Homo sapiens: one gene and its partners. The protein of the gene in region 2 interacts with the protein of the main gene of each other region in a biochemical or structural test. Each region holds a gene or a part of one and is shown on either strand. Other genes may lie near its edges.

Evidence for each region.
Region 1: the proteins of CHRD (region 2) and TWSG1 form a complex in vitro, tested with the Homo sapiens proteins (one study listed by BioGRID).
Region 3: of the proteins of CHRD (region 2) and BMP1, one has a biochemical effect on the other in vitro, tested with the Homo sapiens proteins (3 studies listed by BioGRID and IntAct).

The regions. Positions count from the first base shown.
Region 1 is NC_000018.10:9,337,614-9,345,355, forward strand, and holds part of TWSG1 (twisted gastrulation protein homolog 1 precursor), read left to right. Parts: intron 1-5,397; exon of another isoform or gene 5,398-5,420; intron 5,421-7,742. UniProt on the Homo sapiens protein: May be involved in dorsoventral axis formation. Seems to antagonize BMP signaling by forming ternary complexes with CHRD and BMPs, thereby preventing BMPs from binding to their receptors.
Region 2 is NC_000003.12:184,375,671-184,383,795, forward strand, and holds the start of CHRD (chordin isoform 1 precursor), read left to right. Parts: upstream 1-4,383; 5' UTR 4,384-4,648; coding exon 4,649-4,796; intron 4,797-5,021; coding exon 5,022-5,125; intron 5,126-5,405; exon of another isoform or gene 5,406-5,460; intron 5,461-5,564; coding exon 5,565-5,694; intron 5,695-5,825; coding exon 5,826-5,954; intron 5,955-6,045; coding exon 6,046-6,145; intron 6,146-6,262; coding exon 6,263-6,350; intron 6,351-6,718; coding exon 6,719-6,860; intron 6,861-6,963; coding exon 6,964-7,104; coding exon of another isoform or gene 7,105-7,185; coding exon 7,186-7,268; exon of another isoform or gene 7,269-7,345; coding exon 7,346-7,493; intron 7,494-7,641; coding exon 7,642-7,748; intron 7,749-7,852; coding exon 7,853-7,972; intron 7,973-8,125. Other genes in the region: THPO (thrombopoietin), read right to left, coding at 218-345, 577-734, 2,405-2,679. UniProt on the Homo sapiens protein: Dorsalizing factor. Key developmental protein that dorsalizes early vertebrate embryonic tissues by binding to ventralizing TGF-beta family bone morphogenetic proteins (BMPs) and sequestering them in latent complexes.
Region 3 is NC_000008.11:22,188,894-22,196,635, forward strand, and holds part of BMP1 (bone morphogenetic protein 1 isoform 3 precursor), read left to right. Parts: exon of another isoform or gene 1-526; intron 527-2,192; exon of another isoform or gene 2,193-2,702; intron 2,703-3,155; coding exon 3,156-3,258; intron 3,259-5,164; coding exon 5,165-5,281; intron 5,282-5,551; coding exon 5,552-5,697; intron 5,698-5,830; coding exon 5,831-6,026; intron 6,027-6,568; coding exon 6,569-6,694; intron 6,695-7,742. UniProt on the Homo sapiens protein: Metalloprotease that plays key roles in regulating the formation of the extracellular matrix (ECM) via processing of various precursor proteins into mature functional enzymes or structural proteins.

The DNA of each region.
Region 1 (7,742 bases), on a different chromosome or scaffold from region 2:
CTCTATTCAGATGATTTAATCTGTGTAATCTAATTAACATAGCAAAGAGGTTCAATGAATGTATTTAGAAAAAAAATTAGCTGGTCAAATAATAGATAAATTGTTACCCTAAGTATGATGTATTAGTTGTCCATTGCTATGTAACAAATTACCCCAAAACATAGCAACTTAGTGCAATAAACATGTATTATTTCATGCAGTTTCTGAGGGCCTGGAATCTGGGAGCAGTTTAGCCAGGTGGCTGTGGCTTAGGGTCTCCCACAATGTTGCAGGCAAGTTGTTGGCTGGGATTGGACAATCTGCTTTCAAGATACTTCGAAGTTATATCTCTTCCAATCATCAAGGCAGGCCTCTTAATGTAGCCACCACTCTCATTTTTCTGGGGAGAAAAGTAAGAGGAAGTAATGTGGCTAAGTTAACAGGCTCGTATTGAACTCCTGATTAGCTTCCTTTCTAGTTGCAGGCTGTGCACTCAGAAATTCAGTAGCCACACACATTAGCATTCTATGTAAAGTATGAGTCAGCTAACATGACTGTAACCCTCACTTGAGAGTAATTGTGTATATGTGCTAGAGTGACAATTGTTTTTATACATCAGAAGCATTTTGTGCTTATTTCTGACATTTTGGTCCTTCTCGCTAATAGTTGGAATTCTACTTGCCCCCATTTCGTACTCTGATAACCCTAACTTTGCATTTCAAACCAAAACATTTAACTAGAGAAGTGTGTTTGCTGTTCAGTTTTTAACTTTTTCGCTGTGGACATTTTCAGGTATAAAAGGAGAAGAATATAATGAACCATCCATGAGTAGTTACTGCAGTCACTACCTCATGGCTACTCTTATTTTATCTATACCCTCCTACATTATTCACTCCCAGCTGTTTTAATTTCAAGCAAATCCCTTGATACTGTTTTGTTGATAATTCTAATATGTATCTCTAAAAGAGAACTCTTTACCAACATAGCTATTAGACCAATTTTACAGTTTAAAAATTAACACTAATTCTTTAATCACCTAATTTTGTATGTGGAAATCTTAATAAGGCACGCCTGCTTAGGCTTGTGTTGGCTGGAAACTTTGTGTCTGCAAATGAAGCCCAGTTTTGTGCTATGGTCAGATGAGGAGTCTGTGGTACCTCCCAGATTGTTTCAATGTAGCTTCATTATTCATTATTCACAATAAAGTCTCATAACATTTGCTGTATTCATGTTTAGATGGAAATTCTCTTAAATTCCAAATTATATTCTTGACTCTTCAACTCTATAACTTGCATTAGTTCAAGTAATTAAAAATTGTACTTTGGCCATGCACAGTGGCTCATGCCTCGTAATCCCAGCACTTTGAGAGATTGAGGCAGGAGGATCACTTGAGCCCAGGAGTTTCAGACCAGCCTGGGAATCACAGTGAGACCCTGTCTCTACAACAAATAGTTTTTTTAAAATTAGCTGGGCATGATCATGTACACCTGTAGTCTCAGCTACTTGGGAGGCTGAGGCAGGAGGATCATTTGAGCCCAGGAGGTTGAGGCTGCAGTGAGCTATGATTGTGCCACTGCACTGAAGCCTGGGTGACAGAGCAAGACCCTGTCTCAAAAAAAAAAAAAATTGTACTTTATTTAAAATACCTTGCTTTTAAAGGGAGTATTTAAAAGAGAAAGCTTTTGATTAATATGGGTAGATACTTGTAAAGGTTTTTTTGTTTGTTTGACTCTTTAAAAATTTTTTGGCTCTATTACAGCTTACTACAGCCTTGACTTCCCAGGCTCCAGCGATCCTCCCATCTCAGCCTCTGGTGTAGCTGGGACTACAGGCACGTGGCACCATGCCTGGCTAATTTACTTTGTATTTTTGGTAGAGACAGGGTTTTGCCATGTTGCCAAGGCTGGTCTCAAACTTCTGAGCTCAAGCGATCTGCCAAGGCTGGTCTCAACCTTCTGAGCTCAAGCAATCTGCCACCTCGGCCTCCCAAGTGCTGGGATTACAGGTGTGAGTCACCGTGCCTGGCCATTAAAAAAATTTAAAAAATTACAATTACAAAAATTAGCTGAGCATGGCGGTGCATGCTTGTAATCCCAGCTACTTGGGAGGCTGAGGCAGGAGAATCACTTGAACCCAGGAGGCGGAGGTTGCAGTGAGCTGAGATCGTGCGACTGCACTCCCACCTGGGCGACAGAGCAAGACTCTGTCTCAAAAAAAAAAATTGTAAAAAAACAAAATACTTCAAAATGTAAAGAGTACTATATCAGTGTAAAAAAACTGGAAAAGCAAATGGAGCTTCACCTAACTCAAATGGTGATTCTAGTAAACAAAATCAGCTAGGACGTATTTTCAGTCACAAATTCATGGATGCTGACATTTCTGATATTCCGTTGTAGCTTCAGAGCCAGGAAACATCAAACTTTTTTCTGGAGTAGTGGACACAACTATCCTGGTGGATGGTAGACTACTTGGATTTAGAAAAGATCTAGGGCTGGGCCGGGCGCGGTGGCTCAAGCCTGTAATCCCAGCACTTCAGAAGGCCGAGGCGGGCGGATCACAAGGTCAGGAGATCAAGACCATCCTGGCTAACATGGTGAAACCCCGTCTCTACTAAAAATACGAAAAATTAGCCAGGCGTGGTGATGGGCGCCTGTAGTCCCAGCTACTCGGGAGGCTGAGGCAGGAGAATGGCGTGAACCCAGGAGGCGGAGCTTGCAGTGAGCCAAGATCATGCCACTGCACTCCAGCCTGGGCGACAGAGCAAGACTCCATTTCAAAAAAAAAAAAAAAAAAAAAAAGAAAAGATCTAGGGCTCAAATATTGAGGATTTTCTTGTTTGTTTATTCACAAACATTTATTGAGTGTTGAAATGAAATGTGATTAGTTCCACTCTTCACCTAGTTTTGTGGACTCCCAAACTCTAGCAGATTATTTCACATTCTGATCTTTAGTTTCCATGTGTTCCTCTTACTATGGCTGTGTGGCAAACCACCCCAAAAACCAGTGGCTGGAAACAGCATTTATTTTGCTCACGAATTTGCATTCTGAGCAGGGCTCTGCGGAAGAGTTCATCTCTGTTCCACGTGGCATTAGCAAGGCGGCTTGAAGGTGGTGGGGGTGGAATTATCTGAAACAGCACTATAGATAGAGCTTTCTGCGATGATGGAAAAGATCTACATCTACCCTGTGCAATACAGTAGAATCTAGCCATACGTGGCTACCAAGTACTTGAAATGTGACTAGTATGGCTGAAAATCTGATTTTAAATTTAATTCAATTTCAATTTCATTAGCTGCATAGCTGCATATGACTAGTGGCCACGTATTGGACATTGAAAATCTGAAGGCTCACTGATAAAGTCTAATACCTGGGCTGGGAAGATTCTTCAGGTATACGTCTCTTCCTGACTTCTCCTCCCCTTCCTCCCTTCTCTATCCCCATCTCCCTCCCTCTCTCCCTTTCACTCTCTCTGTGTATATATGTGTGTGTCTCTGTGATCCTGCTATATGATCTCTCCTGCAGGTCCACCTGGATTTAAGTGGAGGGAACATAGGCCCCACCTCTGTTGGAGGAGTGACAGTGTCATGTTGTAAGCTGAACATGTGGATGGGATATAATGGTGTGGCCATCTGTGGAAAATACACTCTGCCACATATAAACTGTAAAGTGAATTGGCTGGCTAGGTGAGCTCAAAATTTTCTTCTAGTTCTAGGCAGTTTTAAAGAAAGAAACCAACTAGTATGTGTCAAATGTTCTCTTTTTTTCATCAGAGTAATAAATTATTAAATTATTAGAAGGCTACATAGTGAAAAATTGAATCTCTTGATCTAATTCTCCCTACTCATTCTATTACCCTGGGAAAACCGCTTTTAATCTAACTCTTATATTTTTACTTCTGTTAGTAATTTTTAGCCATATGCCTAAATAATATGCTTGTACTACTATTTCTTGATTCATCAGTTTTAGATGTTATATATCTAAAATTGCCTTTCTGCTATAACAGATAAGGTCATAGCTCATCATGTCATCCTTCCCACTCCTGCCCTGCCACACTTGTATCACAGTTTTGAGTTTATCTCTTGGTTATTTTTTCAATTTCTTCAATATATTTAAGGTTTTCTATTCTGTTCTATCAACTGGAGACACTATCTCTTTATTCCTGATGTAAGTGGAGAATATTAATAGTCCTTTCCTTTTAAAGTTTATTTTATTTTATTATTTTTTTTTTTTAGCAATGAGACAGACTATAAGTGAGTTTTAAGAACAGTGCATTTCTTGAGGGAATTGAAGAGAGGGTTTGTTTGGGTTCCAGTCTTGGGAGATCATGTGAAGCTACCATGTTTAACATCATAGAAAGCAAAGAAATCAGTTTTTTCCCTTGCATTTATGAGTACTGCCCTTGAAATTTTCTACTTTTGGCATTCTGATGGGCTACTTTTGGAATTCTGATGGGCTGCATCAAAATCTGTGGGGAACGGAGTGTTACCTGTACTTTTACTTTTATATTGTCAAGGTTGATAACATCTACATTCTGAGAGGCTGCATAGTATAATGGTTAAGCGTATGAACTCTGGAACCAGGCTATCTGAATTTGGATCCAGTTCTGCCACTTACTGGTTGTATGACCTTGGGCAAGTTAGTTAATCTCTCAATGCCTCAATTTCCTCATCTGTAAAGCAGGGATAATAACCATACTGTGCGAGTATTGTGAGGATTAGGTGTAAAGTATTTAGAGCAATGCCTGGCACGTGAGTGCACTATAGGTAATTACTAACCTTATTTCTCTGTTTTGTAACTCTATTTGAATCTTCTAATGCTTTATTTACAGGTATATTCTAAAACTGGCAATAAACCATGTTTATATTGTAATGATTATATAAATATTGTTGACTGTTGACTGTAGTCACATAGGTACTATGATTACATTTCCCTTCTTGAATGATTTTGTTTTTCTTGAGTTTCTAATTATCTTTCTTTACCTTGTATCATCAATCATTAGCACCTTATATTGTTTTAAGTACTTAATGTATTTTTCCTCCCAAATGGAGCCTTCAGTCTTGATGTTTCCAGACTTAACTGATTGCAATCTAGGTCTGATGCAAGCTGTCTTATGGTGACTTTCCATCATTACTTTCCCAAGTTGGTTCCAGTGTTTCTTGGATTTCGTATCTTGTTGTTTTTAACAGTAACCCTTATTTTGTCCCAACATGCCCTCAAGTAACTTCCTAAGAAAGCCTGTGTGGAAAGTAAGCTTTCTGGGTCCTGCATGTCTTGAAGATGTATTTATTCTCACCTTTCACCTGACTGATGGTTTGCCTGAATACAGAATTCTATGTTAAATTCTTTTCCCTCAGAACTTTGGAGACATTTCTCTATTATCTAATAGCATTCCATATTGCCAATAAGAAGTCTGATGCCAGTCTGTTTCTTATTCTCTATAGGTAACTTTGTTATTCTCTCTAGAAACTTTTAGTATCATCTCATTAGCCTTCATATTATGGAATTTAAACTGTTGAGTCTAGTGTTGGTCTTTTCATTCATTCTGTTTGGTATCTTGTGAGTCTTTTGGGGATCAGTTTTGAGCCAAAGACTAGGAAATGCCCTGTTTTGTTTTTTGTTATATATATATATATATATATATATATATATATATATATATATATATATATCTTGTCCTAACATACATACATATATAATATATACGTTTTATATAACTATATTTTTGTATAATATATAATTATGTATAGTGTCCTCTTTTCTTTCTGGAACTCTTATTAGTATAAATCTAAGATGGATTCTCTGTTAGATTTTTTTTAAAAAACAGTTTTATTGAGATATATGATTCATATATTATAAAATTTACCCATTTAAGGGTACAATTGAGTGGTTTTGGCATATCGACAGACTTGTGCAACCATCACCACAATCTAATTTCAGAACATTTTCATTACTTTAGAAGGGAACTCCATACCCTTTAGAAGTCATTTCCTATTCTCTCTCCCCACAAACCCTAGGCAGTTTACTTTCTCTCTACATGCTTGTTCTGGACATTTAATATGAATGGAATCATACCTTGTCTTTTGTGTCTGACTTCTTTCATTGAGCATAATGTTTTCATGGTTCCTGTGTGTTGTAACATATTCAGTATTTCATTCCTTGGTCAAATAATATTCTGCTGAATGGGCATACCACATTTTATTTATCCATTTATTGGTTGGAGGATATTTGAGTTACTTATATTTTTGGCTATGGTAGATAATACTGCTATGAATATTCAAGTTTCAGTGTGTGGATGTATCTTTGTTTGTTTTTTAAGAGATAAACTGTGTTACACAGGTTTGTTTACTGCCTGTGCACACAGGCAGTGGTGCAATCATTGTTCACTGTAACCTTGAACTCCTGGGCTCAAACGATCCTCTCACCTTGGCCTCCCAAGTAGCTAGCACTACAGGTGTGTGCCACCATACCTGGCTAATTAAAAAAATTTTTTGTGTGTGGAGACAGGATCTTATTATGTTGCCCAGGTTGGTCTTGAACTCTTGTCCTCAAACGATCCTCCTGCCTTGGCCCCACAAAGTTCTGGGGTTACAGGTGTGAGCTGCTACAGACAACCCTGGATGTATCTCTTAATTTTTCTTTTGTATATACCTAGGAGTAGAATTGCTGGGCCATATGGCAACTCTGTGTTTAACATTTTGAGGAACTGCTGAAGTGTTTATTCTAAAGTGGCTGCACTATTTTACATTCCTACCAGTTGTGTATGAGAGTTCTAGTTTCCCTATAGCCTCACCAACACTTATCTTTCCTTTTTATTGTAGCACCTTTGTGGAGTGGTTATGATTTGCATTTCCCTAATAGCTAATGATGTTGAGCATCTTTTTATGTGCTTAGTGAATGCATGTGTGTGTGTGTGTGTGTGTGTGTGTGTGTATGTATGTATTTTTTTTTTTTTTTGAGAGAGGATCTTGCTCTGTCACCCAGGCTGGAGTGCAGTGGTGCAATCACGGCTAACAGCAACCTCAACCTCCTGGACTCAAGCAATCCTCCCACCTCAGTCTCCCAAGTAGCTGGGACTATAGGCATGCACCACCATGTCTGGTTAGCTTATTGTATATCTTTGGGGAAATACCTATTGAAAACCAGTGCTCTTTTTTGTGTGTGTGTGTTTGTTTTAGACGAGAGTCTCATTCTGTTGCCCAGACTGGAGTGCAGTTGCTCTATCATAGCTCACTGCAGCCTTGAACTCCTGGGCCAACACGATCCTCCTGCCTCAGCCTCCTGAGTAGCTAGGACTACAGGTATGTGCCACCACACTCAGCTAATTTTTAAAATTTTTAAATTCTTTATAGGGATGGGGGGTCTCACTGTATTGCCCAGGCTGGTCTTGAACTCCTGGTCTCAAGTGATCGTCCTGTCTTGGCCTCTCAAAGCGCTGGAATTACAGGTGTGAGCCACCATGCCCAACCCAGAACCTATGCTCATTTTAAAATTGGCTTGTCTTTTTATTGTTGAGTTGTAAGAATTCTTTATATATTCTGGGCTCAAGACCCTTGTCAGATACATTATTTGCAAATATTGTCTCTCATTCTGTGGGTTGTCTTTTCAACTACTATGTATCATTTGTATCACAAAAGTTTTACATTTTAATGACATCCAATGTTTCTGTTTTTTTCTTTTGTTACTTGTGCTTTTGGTGTTGTATCTAAGAAACCATTACCTAAGCCAAAGTCATAAAGATTTACTTGTATGTTTTCCTCTAAGAA
Region 2 (8,125 bases):
GCTAGTCCTCCATGAGTACTATCTCTAGACGAGAGCTTTTAAATGCGGGCTGTATTGTGAAGAATAATCCTTGTCAGAGAGTGTGATCAGTAGGTGGGGACAATATGGGAAGAATAGTCATTGGGTCAAGGAGTTAGAGGAAGTGATGGTGTCTTCCTGGGAGTATGGGTGTCTTACCAGTTACGCGGATAAAGGGGATAATGTTGGGAGTTCTCACCAGTCTGCTGTGAAGGACATGGGAGTCACGAAGCAGTTTACTGAGGACTCGGAGGTCACAAGCAGGAGGAGCCGGGCTGGACAGCGTTAGCCTTGCAGTTAGGAGAAGCATGACCACGAGGAGCAATTCTTAGATGAGGAGAGGTGAGGTTGAAAGATGAGGAGGAAATCATTGTCAGCTGGTATTCCAGGAATTCCCATTCAGGACCCAGACCTGAAACCCAGGGAATCCACCCCTCAGACCCCTTATTTTTGGGAGAATGGGTTCCCCCAGCTTCCTGCCCCCTGCAGCGTGTCTCCTTTCTCTCTCCCCTTCTGTCATGTTTCCATATGGCCCTAGCCCCTCAGGTGTGTTCTCACCAGTCAGCTCCATTCTGGCCGGGGTGTCTGGCTGGCGTGGCTCCCTGTTTGGGGCCTCTCCCCTGAATCCTTCCTGGGGCCATGGAGGCGGCTTAGGCTCTTGCACTTCTGGGCAGAGTAGGGTGGGGCAAAGGCGGGCCAAGGGTGAAGAATCTATCCTGAAAGTAGCAAGAAGAGTGAACATTTAACCAAGTTTCTAGGAAGAGACTGCCTGGCAGGGTGAACAGATGCTGGGGAGGGCTTGAGATGCTGACCAGCCTGGAACTGCCAAAGCCCTGAATTCTCTCACATTTTCTTGTGATGAAAGCATATGGTGTGCCGGGTGCAGTGGCTCATGCCTGTAATCCCAGCACTTTGGGAGTCCAAGGCGGGTGGATCACCTGAGGTCAGGAGTTCGCCACCAGCCTCACTAACATGGTGAAACCCCGGCTCTACGAAATACAAAAAAACTAGCAGGGTGTGGTGGTTCATGCCTGTAATCCAAGCTACTTGGGAGGCTGAGACAGGAGAATCGCTTGTACCTGGGAGGCGGAGGTTGTGGTGAGCCGAGATCGCACCATTGCACTCCAGCCTGGGCAATAAGAGTGAAACTCCGTCTCAAAAAAAAAAAAGAAAGAAAGAAAGAAAGAAAGAAAGCAAGAAAGCATATGGTGTCTCCTTTTTGTCAGGACTCCTCAGTGAATCGGACATGGATTTGGTGCCACCTACCCCTGCTGAGAGCAGCAGGACATGATATGTATACACACATATCTTAATTAGCCTTAAATTCTGAGCAACCTTGGTTGTTAGGTCAGAGAAAATCTGGGATGGGGATAGAGAAGGAAAGTATTGTGGCTTCAGCCTGGAGAAGAGAGTGGAAAATGGGATGCAGGGCCTGGGTGAGGAACTGGCAAACGGGCGCAATATGTTGAGGGGTAACTTCTGCGGTGGGGAGTGGGGCTGGGGAGGGGAACTGCACAAAGCTGTAACTGGGACCACTAGAGGTCAGGATTAAAAGGCGGTATGGGAGAAATTAACCTCTATTCTTTCCCTATCTACCCCCACACATAAAGCCACTGGAGCTTTTCTCTGGACTCCAAGTCCTGAAATACTCCATTATCTGAGGCCAAGAGATGGGCTAACAGTTCTGGGACTTCCTTCCTGAGACCAGCTGCCCAGGAACGGGCACCTGCTGGGTGATGCCCACCTTAGGGGCTTACCTTGTCTTAGGCGCCCACTAACATATCTGTCTCATAGCTCACACCTGCCTCCCTGCCCCCTTGGCAGAACCCCTTCCGGTTCCTTCACAGGACCCCCCACATGGCTTCCTCCTCCTTTCACAAGTTGTGCAAAGAGGCTTGCACCTGATTCAATATTGGGATTTCCTGTAGGTCTGTCAACATGAGTGGGCCCTCCTCCCATTACCCTCTCCTTGCGCCCTGGCTTGCCTGGCCCAGCTTCCCCAGCACCAGATTCAGAACCTTAAGCTAACGAGGAATGACCAGCTAAGAATGGGGATTGGGGCTGTGTCCATCTTACTACTGTGTTTGCTAAGCCCTAAGTGCAGCTCCCTCTCTTATTTTCTCCCTGGGCTCATGTCCCCTTTCCTTAGGGCCAGCCAGGGCTGTGCTGTATTCCACCAAGTAAGTGATCAGTCCCTCAGAAACCAGCACCCCACCCCCTACCCCTGCTCTGCCCTGCTCCTCCCATTCTGGGAAGGCTACACTCTTCTCGACAAAGGTCAGTGCCTGTAGGTTCCAGTTTGCCTGCCCCTCCCCCAGCTGGGAGCCCATTTCTCTTTGCTGTCCTTTCTACCCTCACATAACCCCACACCCTGCTGGCCACTCACCGGGTGGAGAAGGGCTCCAGGACCCAAGTGCACAGCAGGCAGCCCTCTGGGGAGCAGATGGGTAGGAAGACATGTGGCGGTGGGGCACAGCCCCTCCACAGCAGCAGGTCATACGCCTGCCTGGGCCACTTCTGCCCAATCAGAGAAGGGAGCCACCAGACACTGGTGAAGGCCCCCGGAAGTGACGCCTTCTCTTCCCTGGAGCCCCTGCCTGGACCAGGGTCCACTCCTCCACCCACACACACCACGGAGAAGATTTGGATAGGGGGATCCATCTTTTCCTGGACATGGGCAACCTGGGACCTGGAGGGGGACAGGAGCAGAAGTTTTTTTCCAGGAGGAATCTGGCAGGACATTTGTGTTGCTGGGGAAGAAGCACAGAGGTCTTGTTTAAGATTGGTGGGGTTTTCACTCCCTGGCTATCCAAATTTCTTTTCCCTGGACATCATACCTGCTGCTGAAATCCAACAGGATGCTTGCTTTCCTGCTTTTCTTTCTGTAATCCCCTAGGGAGTCCTATCTTGTCATTCCCCCTTTCGAAGTGGGAACACGGATATTGCCCACATGAGAGAAATCTCCTGTTATGGGTTGGTGTTATGGGGAAAGGGTTTGGACGGGTTGAGTGGACTGTCAGGTGCGGGGCACATGTATGTGCGCACACGTGCACTGGGTTAAGCCTGAGCTTAGGTGCTCGTCTGCTGGGGTCCAGTGGCTTAGATGGCTACACACACAGACCTCTGTGCCCAGGGCCCTCCTTTGCTTGTTCTGTCTCCGTCTTCCATCTCCTACCGTTCCACATGTGACAAGAGGAATAACCAGGCCCATGTGTCCCTGTCTTAGGAAAGACAGCTGCTGGACCTCCCCCGCAAATACCTCCCTGCTGGCCCCCCTTTTCCTTTGGCCCTGGCTCTAGCTCCTTTGCTTTCTTCCCAGTCCCAGTCTCCCCACAGTCTCTGTCCTCAGGGGCTTCCTGGCCTGACCTTGATCCCATCATCCCCCTGTCCCCCAGAACTTCCTCAGGCTCTCTCCTGTTCCTCCTCCCCAAGGATGGGCATGTCTGCTGAGAAGTGTGGCCTAGATCCTGGAATTTTCCCGTCCAGCCAGACGAGATGTCTCCCAAGATTAGGAAGGAGGGTGCTGGGATAGCTGGGAGGATAGTGGGTGTGTGTGGGAGGGAGAGACAGGAGACAGGGAGGCAGGCATGACCAGGGAACCAAGAGAAAGGAGGCTGGGAGTGGGCTGGAGAGGCAGAGGGTCCCTTGGGTGAAGGAAGGGGGTGAGAAAGCAAGAGGGGACTGTCGAATGCGCCTGAGGATAAGTTACAATGAGAGGGAGATACTGTCACTCCACAGAAGGGGGAATGCTGCCGGTTTCTGGCTAGGTCCCTGTCCTGGGTAACACAAGAATGAGGAGCGACCTCAGAGAGAAGGTAGGGAGGCAGGCTAGGCAGTGAGAGAGGGTGGTGAGGGTTTGGGGGGCGCTGTGGGCCCAGGCAGGGGGAGATCGGCTGATGGACCTTTCCTGTACGTTGTCATCTTTAAAGACAAGTCTTCATCCTTCGGGCGGAACCGGGTCCTCGCTCACAGAGCGGTCCAGGCCTCAGGCCTAGCCTCTGCCCCTCCCTAGCCTGAGGCTCCCTTCCTGGGCTGGACACCGACCTCCTGGTCCAGCCGCCCTGTGGCCGCCAGCAGCGGGGGGCTCCGGGCCCGCCTCTCCTCCCCCTCTTCGCGCCCCCTGGTCCCTCCCCTCCCCCTCCCCCGCTCCCCCTTCCCCTCCCGCCCCTCCCTCCTCCCCTGCCCGGTCCCAGCCCCTCCCTCCCCTCCCCCACCCGCGATCCGGGCCGCTGCTGCTGGGTCGGACCCCCCGGGCTCAGCCCGGCCCCTCGCCGAGCTGCCGCCGCCGCCCCGTTTGCTGAGGAGGAGGCCCCCGGCCGGGGCGTCGGGCGCGGGGCATAAAACGGGCCGGAGCCGGCGCCCGGGGCAGTAGAGCCGCGTACGGCCCGGGTCAGCGCCCGCCCGCCCGCGCTCCTCCCGGCCGCTCCTCCCGCCCCGCCCGGCCCGGCGCCGACTCTGCGGCCGCCCGACGAGCCCCTCGCGGCACTGCCCCGGCCCCGGCCCCGGCCCCGGCCCCCTCCCGCCGCACCGCCCCCGGCCCGGCCCTCCGCCCTCCGCACTCCCGCCTCCCTCCCTCCGCCCGCTCCCGCGCCCTCCTCCCTCCCTCCTCCCCAGCTGTCCCGTTCGCGTCATGCCGAGCCTCCCGGCCCCGCCGGCCCCGCTGCTGCTCCTCGGGCTGCTGCTGCTCGGCTCCCGGCCGGCCCGCGGCGCCGGCCCAGAGCCCCCCGTGCTGCCCATCCGTTCTGAGAAGGAGCCGCTGCCCGTTCGGGGAGCGGCAGGTAGGTGGGCGCCCGGGGGAGGCGCGGGCGGGGAGTCGGGCTCGGGGCGAGTCAGCGCCAGCCCGGAGGGGGCGCGGGGCGCAGGTGGCTCGGCGCGGCGGGCGGCCCGGAGGGTGGGCGGGGGCAGAAGGGCGCGGTGCCTGGGACCCGGGACCCGCGGGCAGCCCCCGGGGCGGCACACGGCGCGAGCTGGGCAGCGGCCTCCAGCCAAGCCCGTCCCCGCAGGCTGCACCTTCGGCGGGAAGGTCTATGCCTTGGACGAGACGTGGCACCCGGACCTAGGGGAGCCATTCGGGGTGATGCGCTGCGTGCTGTGCGCCTGCGAGGCGGTGAGTGCACCCCGCGGCCGGCCCGGGCCCTGGCGGGTGGGGAGCGCCGGGTCGCGCGGGCGTCGGAGTGGACTCGGAGCTGCTGAGAAGGAGCCCAGTCGGCAGATGTTGGGGATATTTTTCTGGTGGAGGAAGGGGAATCAGCCCCTCCAATTCTTAGGTGCTGTTACTGATCGCCCACTCTGTGTGAGGCTCTGTGCCAACTCCGTTTCGTTCCCTGCTCATCTAACTCTCATGGCAGCCTTGCTAGATAGAGAGTATTATTATCCCCATTTTCCAGACAGGGACCTTGAGGCCCAGAGAGATGAAGTAGCTTGTCTAGGGTCACGCAGCTTGTAAGTGGCAGAGCTGGCTGACTCTGCGGGACATCCTTGCCTGGGGGGGTCTCATCAGTTGGCATCTTGCACTCACTTGGGTTTCCCGCCTTTTCCGGGAGCAGCCTCAGTGGGGTCGCCGTACCAGGGGCCCTGGCAGGGTCAGCTGCAAGAACATCAAACCAGAGTGCCCAACCCCGGCCTGTGGGCAGCCGCGCCAGCTGCCGGGACACTGCTGCCAGACCTGCCCCCAGGGTAAGTCTTGCTCCGCCCTGCGGGGAGGGAGGCAGGGCCACGATACTAGGTCCCGGGCCACTTGGATGGGGCGTCGGACTGGCCTTTCCCATGGCCAGCTGAAGCCCGTGTTCTTACCCCCCCGCCCGCAGAGCGCAGCAGTTCGGAGCGGCAGCCGAGCGGCCTGTCCTTCGAGTATCCGCGGGACCCGGAGCATCGCAGTTATAGCGACCGCGGGGAGCCAGGCGCTGAGGAGCGGGCCCGTGGTGACGGCCACACGGGTAGGGGGCTGGCGAACAGCGGGGTTGTGGTTGAGGCTGGGCCACCAAAGCGGCGTTTGACAGTGCTCAGGCCATCTTCCTCCCGTCCCAGACTTCGTGGCGCTGCTGACAGGGCCGAGGTCGCAGGCGGTGGCACGAGCCCGAGTCTCGCTGCTGCGCTCTAGCCTCCGCTTCTCTATCTCCTACAGGCGGTGAGAAAGGGGAAGGAGCAAGGAGGGGTCAGCTGCCGGGGCCCGGGAGGGAAACTGGGAGAGCTGGGAGGGGCTGCTTTTGGCTCAGTCCGGCCTCACCCGACCTCTCATTCCCAGGCTGGACCGCCCTACCAGGATCCGCTTCTCAGACTCCAATGGCAGTGTCCTGTTTGAGCACCCTGCAGCCCCCACCCAAGATGGCCTGGTGAGATGATGCCATTTATGAGCACTTGCCCAGTCTGGGCACTGTGCCGAGAGCATGCTCTGCATTGCCTCCCGTGGTCCTCACCACAGCCCAGTGGGAGGAAGGCACTGACATTATGATGCCCATTTTACAGAAGGGGGAACTGAGGCTCAGTAGGATAATGTGATTTGTTCAAGGTCACACAGCTAGTAAGTGGTGCAGCCAGGATTGGAACCCAAGCATCTGGCTCCAGCGTTCTTTCTTAAGCTTCCTAGGGCACCCTGGAGGTTCCTTTCCATGTTCCTTTTTCATAAGCCCTGCCTGGGCATCCTAATTGGCCTAGCCTGCACAGTGTCTGAGCGTAGGGCCTTCTTGTCTCTCTGCTCCAGGTCTGTGGGGTGTGGCGGGCAGTGCCTCGGTTGTCTCTGCGGCTCCTTAGGGCAGAACAGCTGCATGTGGCACTTGTGACACTCACTCACCCTTCAGGGGAGGTCTGGGGGCCTCTCATCCGGCACCGGGCCCTGGCTGCAGGTAGGGAGCAAAGAGCCCCGGGCGTGAAGTTCTGAGTCTTCTCTATCACCCAGGAAAGGGGGGGAGGGTTTCTGACGGGCTCTCATCATCGTCCCTTCCCCAGAGACCTTCAGTGCCATCCTGACTCTAGAAGGCCCCCCACAGCAGGGCGTAGGGGGCATCACCCTGCTCACTCTCAGTGACACAGAGGACTCCTTGCATTTTTTGCTGCTCTTCCGAGGGCTGCTGGAACCCAGGAGTGGGGGTAAGTGGGATGGGGGCAAAACACGTGAGAAGGTTAGGGAGAGCACCTGTCTCAGAAAGGCCCACATGTGCGGCCTTGCAGGACTAACCCAGGTTCCCTTGAGGCTCCAGATTCTACACCAGGGGCAGCTACTGCGAGAACTTCAGGCCAATGTCTCAGCCCAGGTGAGTGGGGATCTGGCTCTCGCTGCCACCTGTCTTGGCCTCTTGCTATTGCCCATCACACCCTGCTCTGTCCCCAGGAACCAGGCTTTGCTGAGGTGCTGCCCAACCTGACAGTCCAGGAGATGGACTGGCTGGTGCTGGGGGAGCTGCAGATGGCCCTGGAGTGGGCAGGCAGGCCAGGGCTGCGCATCAGTGGACACATTGCTGCCAGGAAGAGCTGCGACGGTGAGGCGGGGGGGGGGCCTGGTGCGCCGGGCATGCACAACTGAGAGACACAGACAAGTGCCAGGGTGGGTGTGGGAGAGATCCTGTGGACTGGGGGTGTAAGCGGCCATGGGGTAAACCTAGCCTCACCTGTCTTGCCCCTCCGTAGTCCTGCAAAGTGTCCTTTGTGGGGCTGATGCCCTGATCCCAGTCCAGACGGGTGCTGCCGGCTCAGCCAGCCTCACGCTGCTAGGAAATGGCTCCCTGATCTATCAGGTAAGAGCCAGGGGCTGCAGAAGGTGGGGGAGGGGTGGCGTGGGCAGCAGGCCCCAGGCCTTTACTGCCTCTCCACTTTGCCCTCCTCCATCCCTGCCCATCAGGTGCAAGTGGTAGGGACAAGCAGTGAGGTGGTGGCCATGACACTGGAGACCAAGCCTCAGCGGAGGGATCAGCGCACTGTCCTGTGCCACATGGCTGGACTCCAGCCAGGAGGACACACGGTGAGGGCTCCAGGTGGAGCTGGACCCCAGGGCCCAATGCATGGGCTGTGGGAAGCCAGGTTGGATGAGCAGGGATGTTCATTATCATCCACTCACTCATGGGTTCTCCCACTCATTCATTTATTCATTTGACTTTTTTTTTTTTTTTTTTTT
Region 3 (7,742 bases), on a different chromosome or scaffold from region 2:
TGCTGAGCAGAACTGCCTGGCAGGCCCAGGAAGGCCACGTGGAGGAGTGGTGGAGGGTGTGAGTCAGGAGCCAGAGCGCCCTCACTCGGCCCTCTGCATCCCTTCTTCCACCCAGCAACTCTTGTTTTTGTTGTTTGTTAGATATACAAATAACATATGCACACAGTAAACTTTTTGAACAATCTAGCAATGCATAAAATAACAAGTGAAATTTCTCCCCTTGACCCTCCTCCGGATCCCATTCCTCAGAGGTGACTAAGCATTGGTAACACTTTCTGGTGTCTCCTTCCAGACCCTTCTAGGTATATATGTGCATGTAAGCATGGATGAGTATATATGTATGTATATATATACAAGACAAAAAGGAATTGTATGCACACGTATATGGTCTTTTGCAACATACCTTGCACTCAGCAATGAATTGTGGTCGCCGTTCCATGCCAGCACTCAGTCATTTTTATGGCTGCTTAGAATACTATCGTCTTGATTTCTCTCAATTTAATTATTCAGTTGCCCCCTGAGGTCTCTATTGATGGAGATACACACACACACACACACACACACACACATATCTTATATATTATATAATATATAATATAAATAATAAAACCAAATTTCCATTCAGTGAGCCAGTGCAATCCCGGCTCACTGAAGCCTCAGCCTCCTAGGCTCTGGGGATCCTCCCACTTCAGCCTTCCTGGTAGCTGGAACTACAGACACATGCCACCATAGCTGGCTAATTTTTTAATTTTTCTAGAGATGGGGGTCTCACTGTGTTGCCCAGGCTGGTCTCAAACTCCTGGACTCAAGCGATCCTCTTGCCTCAGCCTCTCAAAATGCTCAGTTACAGGTATGAGCTACCATGCCTGGTCCACATTTGGTAATGAGATGCCATCTACTCCCTCGCAAGAGCTAGAATGGACTTGCATCTTCAGAGTTTCAAAATGCCAGGACTTATAATAGTAACAATAACTTTTGATGATGATAATAATAACCAAGAGTAATATATAGTGTGCTTTTCTTTATTTTATTTTATATTTTTTTCGAGACAGAGTCTTCCTCTGTCACCCAGGCTGGAGTGCAGTGGCATGATCTAGGCTCACTGCAACCTCTGCCTCCCAGGTTCAAGCGATTCTCCTGCCTCAGCCTCCTGAGTAGCTAGGATTACAGATGCCCACCATCACACCTGGCTAATTTTTTTTTGTATTTTTAGTAGAGATGAGGTTTCACCATGTTGGCCAGGCTGGTCTTGAACGCCTGACCTCAAGTGATCCACCTGCCTTGGCCTCCCAATGTGTTGGGATTACAGGAGTGAACTACCGCGCTTGGCCTGTAGTGTGCTTTTCAAAAACATGATCTTACTCAATTATATCACAGAATACCACAATTAATAAAAGGTCCCCCAAATAAATATAGTTAAACTCATATATGAATTTTTAAAAAGAATAGAAGAAAAAGGATGGGCTGTGGAGCTAAGCTGGGTAAGGAGAGAGAGTAGATGGGGGTGACCGGCAGTGGCATTGCCCTGGGTGCAGTGGGTTGAAAGTCGCAGTGATGAGAACTGACGGAAAGGCTGGAAACTGAATGGAGAGTGGGGCCCTTGAAACTGAGATTATGGAGGGGCAGACAATTTTCGATGAAGCCGGCCTGCACGGCGTGACGTGTTGGTGTGTGGCCGGGAAGGTATAGAGAGGTGGAGAGAGGAGGTCGCAGAACTGAGCGGCCAAGAAGTGGGAAGGGTCCTCTAGGCGGACATTGGAATCACCAGGTATTCTGATAGGGCCCGTGTCAGAGTGACCAGGAGCCAGGAGCTCCTCCCCGACTAGCATTGATGCTGGCTACAGACAGCCACTGCCAGTGCCCACCTTGGAATCTTTTTCATCCTGGCCTCCACTCTGCCTCTAACTCTCTAAGAAGGTACAAGGGAGGCAGACGGTCCCCTTCTCTAGCAGAGAACCCAGCTCTCCCAGAGCAGGACACCCCTGAAACCATCGAGTGTCCGCTGCACTGGCCTCGCAGGTCACGGTGAACACATCCCTGGAATCCCTACTTGTTGGAACTCTGAATACACAGCAGGCTTTGGGCCCACTCTGGGACCTACCGAGGAAGTGGTTTCCCCCCGGAAGTGGAGGGAAGCCATTAAACTCTCTACCTGTTAAAATGCCCACCTGCTAAGGAGGATTGGTACTTACCAAGATGTAACATTCCTCCAGTAGCGAGCGAGCGTTTCCTGAGCTTGGAGCCTGAAATGAGGTGCTCAGGACAGACAGTGCCTGTGCCTTGGAAGTGTGATGTCAGGGTAGGGACTCTTCTCCCCATTGCACGCAGGACATAGCAGAGGCTCAGAGGTTGCGTGGTTTGCTTGATGACTCACAGCAGGAAATGCAGAGTGGAGATTCACACCCAGGCTGTTGTGACTGGGGTCTGAGCTTTCTCACGCGTATGTCTCATCCCTCCCTAAGCCTGGAGCTTCTTGAGGACAGGGACGGATTCAGATCTGGTGTCCTTTCAGCAGTTAGTGTGTCCCCCTGCCCAGAATCAGTACTCAATAAATGATGATGGGGCCGGGCACAGTGACGCACTCCTGTAATCCCAGCACTTTGGGAGGCTCAGATCGGAGGATGGCTTAAGCCTGGGAGGTGGAGGCTGCAGTGAGCTGTGATTGTACCATTGCACTCCAGCCTGGGTGACAAAGCAAGACCCTGACTCAAAACAAACAAACAAACAAAAAAGTGATGATTGGCGACTCAGCCCTTCTTTCCTCTTGCCTCTCCTCTTGGGACCCTTCGTCGCTACTTCAGACCCTCCAGTACCCTCACGCGGCCCTTGGCCCTTCCTACCACTGTAGAGACCAGTTCCTCTTGAAGATATTGTGGGTTGTGTTATCTAATTGACTATGAAGAGAGCTGGAGCCAGGGGTTCTACCCAAAGTGACGTCTCCTTCCCCTCCTGGGCCTTCTAGGAAGAAAGCTGACCATACACAGACAACTGTGGAGGAGGGGCGGTTCTGTGCCAGGAGCTCCTTTTGGGAGCCCCTTAACTCTCGCCCAGGGGGACCTGCCTCGCGTAAGGCGGGCGGTGGTCATCATGGGGCTGGCAGAGGGCTGGTGCAATGTTCGGGACAGCTTAACCCTCTTCCTCCCCTGTTGCCCTAGATCATCCTGAACTTCACGTCCCTGGACCTGTACCGCAGCCGCCTGTGCTGGTACGACTATGTGGAGGTCCGAGATGGCTTCTGGAGGAAGGCGCCCCTCCGAGGTAACGGCACCAGCCACCCCCTGCCCCCTCCATGCTGATTCCCTCTCTGAGCCACCCTCATCACACTCTTCATCCCCCTCCAGGGCCCAACACTGGCCAGGGATGACAACCTGGTATGGGAGCCAGGAGTCCTGGCATCATTAGTCCCAGATAGCTGCATTACTCACTTGCTGCGAGACTTCAGGCAAGTCCTGTCCTCAATCTGGACTTCAGAGTACCCAGTCCAGACTTCTGGGCCTCCCTGTGAAGTTGGCTGTCACCCTACGGGTGCAAGGAGTCATCAGAATTGACTGAGAGAGACAGACAGGCTGTTCTGCGCATCCCCATGGCCCCAGGCTCTCTTCCTCATCTGGGCACTTTCAGAGGATCCACTATTTTTTTCTATCTGCCCTTCTGGTTTTTGAGTGCCCACAGTGCAGCCTGGCTCAAAAGAGAGTCATCATAACCTGCCAGCCCATCTCCTAACTCACTGCCGAGGGCTGCACACTGGGCGCCGTGGCCCGACCTTGTCTGCATAGGATACTTTGTCCCGAGGAGGGTAGGGGGCAGGAGGTGAGTCAGTGGGAGTAAGTGGGTCAGAAGCACAGAACAGAAGGTGCTTTAATGAACCTAGAATTAGGGCAAAGGGAGGCAGGTGATCCTAGAGGGTATTGCAGCAAGCCCGAGGAGCCGTGTGAATCTCCTCCTAGCTGGACGTGATCGTAAGGAGCTCAGGACCACTCTTTGGCAACAGAACCTCTTCTCCTCAGCCTATGCCTAAAACAGCCAGACGGATATTGCTAACCTCTATTTTCCCCCCAGTTTCCGATATTTAAATATTTCTTTTTGGTCACTCAAAGCAGCTGTCCTTACAACACTTCCTCTCGTAGACGTGTTAGTGTTTTTCCAAGATGGGAGTTTCTTTTTCATAACTTACATTCCTGGGCCAGCACCCTCTGTCCCTTGCTGAATGTTGGGAAACACCGGCCTTATTAGGAACACACAACTCATTCCTAGTTGATTCTTGACTACAAAGAATTCCACAGATGGCCGACCTCATTCACTTATGTTGATTCTTATTCATTTTTATTTCAAAGTGGACATTTTGTGAGCTAGTCCCCAGATTCTGTGATTTATTTAGGGTCCTGGGGCATCCCTTGCATTTGACCAAATAAAAACATGTCTGTGAGGGCAGTTTGTAATGTGTAAAGAAAGCCATGTTTATTTCTGATTATATTTCTGATTTTATTTCTTATTTGGTCTCTTCTTTGCATAGAGACCAAATAAGAAAAGGTAAATAATGATGGTAATATGCTCTTTAGAAAGGTAAATAGAACACATATATAGTTGGACATTATAAAGATCTACCTTGGCCAGGCACGGTGGCTCACACCTGAAATCCCAGAACTCTGGGAGGCCAAGGTGGGTGGATCACCTGAGGTCAGGAGTTCGACACCAGCCTGGCCAACATGGCAAAACCTCATCTCTACTAAAAATACGAAAATTAGCTGGGTGTGGTGGCAGATGCCTGTAGCCCCGGCTACTTGGGAGGCTGAGGCAGGAGAATTGCTTGAACCCAGGAGGCAGAGGTTGCAGTGAGCCAAGAGCGTGCCACTGCACTCCAGCCTGGGTGACAGAGCGAGACTCCATCTCAAAAAAATAAAATAAGATAAAATGAAAAATAAAGATCTACCTTTCCTCCTAGAAATAGACTCATATCCTATCCCTCAAGTGGTCTCTGGCTCTCCAAAGCCAAGTTGGACCTTGGACCAGACAGAAGCCAACCAGAGGGTATACAGTCTTGGGAATGTGTGAAGTAGGGTGGCCACAGATCAGGGCCCAAGCACCCAAGCCTCCTGGAGAGGTGGGGCCTCTATAGGGGGTGTCCTCAGGGTTCACCACTCTTCCATCCACACTGTCTGTGCAGGCCGCTTCTGCGGGTCCAAACTCCCTGAGCCTATCGTCTCCACTGACAGCCGCCTCTGGGTTGAATTCCGCAGCAGCAGCAATTGGGTTGGAAAGGGCTTCTTTGCAGTCTACGAAGGTACTGAGGAAGGCGGCGGGCGGGAGGAGTCAGATAGGAGGTCTCTGGGCATGGTAAAACAACTCCCTCCTGGCACCTGAGGGGCAAGATTGTGGGTTCCCAAGGGAAGAAGCAGAGAGAATGATGGGATTGCCTGGGACTGGGGGTTTGGTGGGGAACTGAAAAGCTGGGGGACATGGGAGGGACTGGAGGAGTGGGGAAAAGAGCTCCCTAGCAGGGCAAAGCATGCTGACTCACCACCCCTTCCCACCCCATCCTGTGTCCCCACAGCCATCTGCGGGGGTGATGTGAAAAAGGACTATGGCCACATTCAATCGCCCAACTACCCAGACGATTACCGGCCCAGCAAAGTCTGCATCTGGCGGATCCAGGTGTCTGAGGGCTTCCACGTGGGCCTCACATTCCAGTCCTTTGAGGTAGGTCAGTGGCCCTGTGATCTGACCTTTGAATCCAGCAGTTGCTCCCTGGGACAGCTGCCTCTCTTTGGGCTCCCAGGGGTGGGTCTCTGGCAGCCAGAGCCCCTTCCACTGATGAAGCCTCGACCCCTAGATTGAGCGCCACGACAGCTGTGCCTACGACTATCTGGAGGTGCGCGACGGGCACAGTGAGAGCAGCACCCTCATCGGGCGCTACTGTGGCTATGAGAAGCCTGATGACATCAAGAGCACGTCCAGCCGCCTCTGGCTCAAGTTCGTCTCTGACGGGTCCATTAACAAAGCGGGCTTTGCCGTCAACTTTTTCAAAGGTGCCTCCTCTGTTACTCTCCCCTGCCCCAAGGTGCCTCGTGACCTTCATCCCTTCTTCACTCACTCATTCAACACGGAGACTCCAGGAGGCATATTGATACCAGTGAGACCCCAGGGCTGTGCCCTTAAGGAGCTCTGGGCTAGCTGGGGAGAAGAGGTCCCCCAATGTGGATTAGAGGCAGGACCTGCTGTATGATTCAGGGAGGAAAAAAGGCAGTTGGAGGTTTTTTTTACCTGTGTGACCTTGGGCAGGATATTCTCCCTGAACCTCAGTTTCTCATCTGTAAAATGGGCACAGTAACAGTCCCTCCGCCACAGGCTTCACATGAGGATTGAAGGAGAAATGAAAGAGGGGTCCTTAGTCAGGGAACAGCACGTGAGAGACACCAGCCCAGTCCATGTGCTCTGAAGGAAGGCTCTGTGGGGTTCCAGCCATCGGGGAGCTGGGTGGGTCTTGGGGCTGAGTGGACAAGTGAGGCTCACAGCCAGCTTCTTCCCTTGAATGCCTGGAGTCTGTGACACCCTTTCCTTCCCACCACAGAGGTGGACGAGTGCTCTCGGCCCAACCGCGGGGGCTGTGAGCAGCGGTGCCTCAACACCCTGGGCAGCTACAAGTGCAGCTGTGACCCCGGGTACGAGCTGGCCCCAGACAAGCGCCGCTGTGAGGGTGAGTGCCCCCAGACTGCCTCTGACCCTGTTCTTTCCCTGGCACCAGCCCACCTGCCCAGAATTTTTTTTTTTTTTAGACAGGCTTTTGCTCTGTCACCCAGGCTGGAAGTACAGTGGCTCAATCTTAGCTCACCATAGCCTCCCATTCCTGGGCTCAAGCAATCCTCCCACCTCAGCCTCCCAAGTAGCTGGGACTACAGGTGCACATCACCTTGCCTGGCTAATTTTAAAATTTTTTTTGTAGCAATGAGGTCTTACTTTGTTGCCGAGGCTTGTCTCAAACTCCTGGCCTCAAGTACTCCTCCTGCCTCGGCCTCCCAAAGTGCTGGGATCACAGGCTTGAGTCACTGCCAAGATTTCTTATGCCCTTGGACAGACCCCTTCTTGGAAAAGCTAGATGGATACCCCAACACTCTTTTCATAGCTCATGGATAAGAAACACATGTCACATTGCAACCCCGAGAACACACTGTCCCCCCGTAGGCCGCATTCTGGCTTTGGGTTTGTTTTGTTTTTTCATTCTTGGGGTGTTTTCGGGTTTTTTTTGTAAATGACCATCTTGACTTGCTAACTGATATCACCACCCACCAGGGTGTTATGATCTACAGGTTGGGAAACCCCTGTTGTGGGACAGACACTGTTTCCGCCTCTCCACGCATGGTCCCGAGATGCTGGGGACAGCACTCCGAGGCTAATGGCTCCAGCTCACTAGGCCGATCCTGCTGTGCCCCCGAGCTGCTCCCTTTCCTGCACCTCCCAGGACCGCCCCTCCCTGAACTGCTTTCCCTGAGCCCCTTATTCCCGCTCACTCCCTCTTGGAGGACCTTGGCCTGTTCATTTGCAGAGAAGATAGAAATGGCCACACTTATGACCCCTTAGCTCCCCCACTCCTCCCTACAGGCCCACCCCTGAGGACACCCAGGCCACCCTGCCTCCTCCCGTCCGCCCCAGAGGGACCAGACACAGGTCCCTGAGCCTTGGGGAGTCCACAGGCTCCCCATCTTCTCCTTACTGCATCCCAGCCCACATCTCAGCCCTTCCCCATG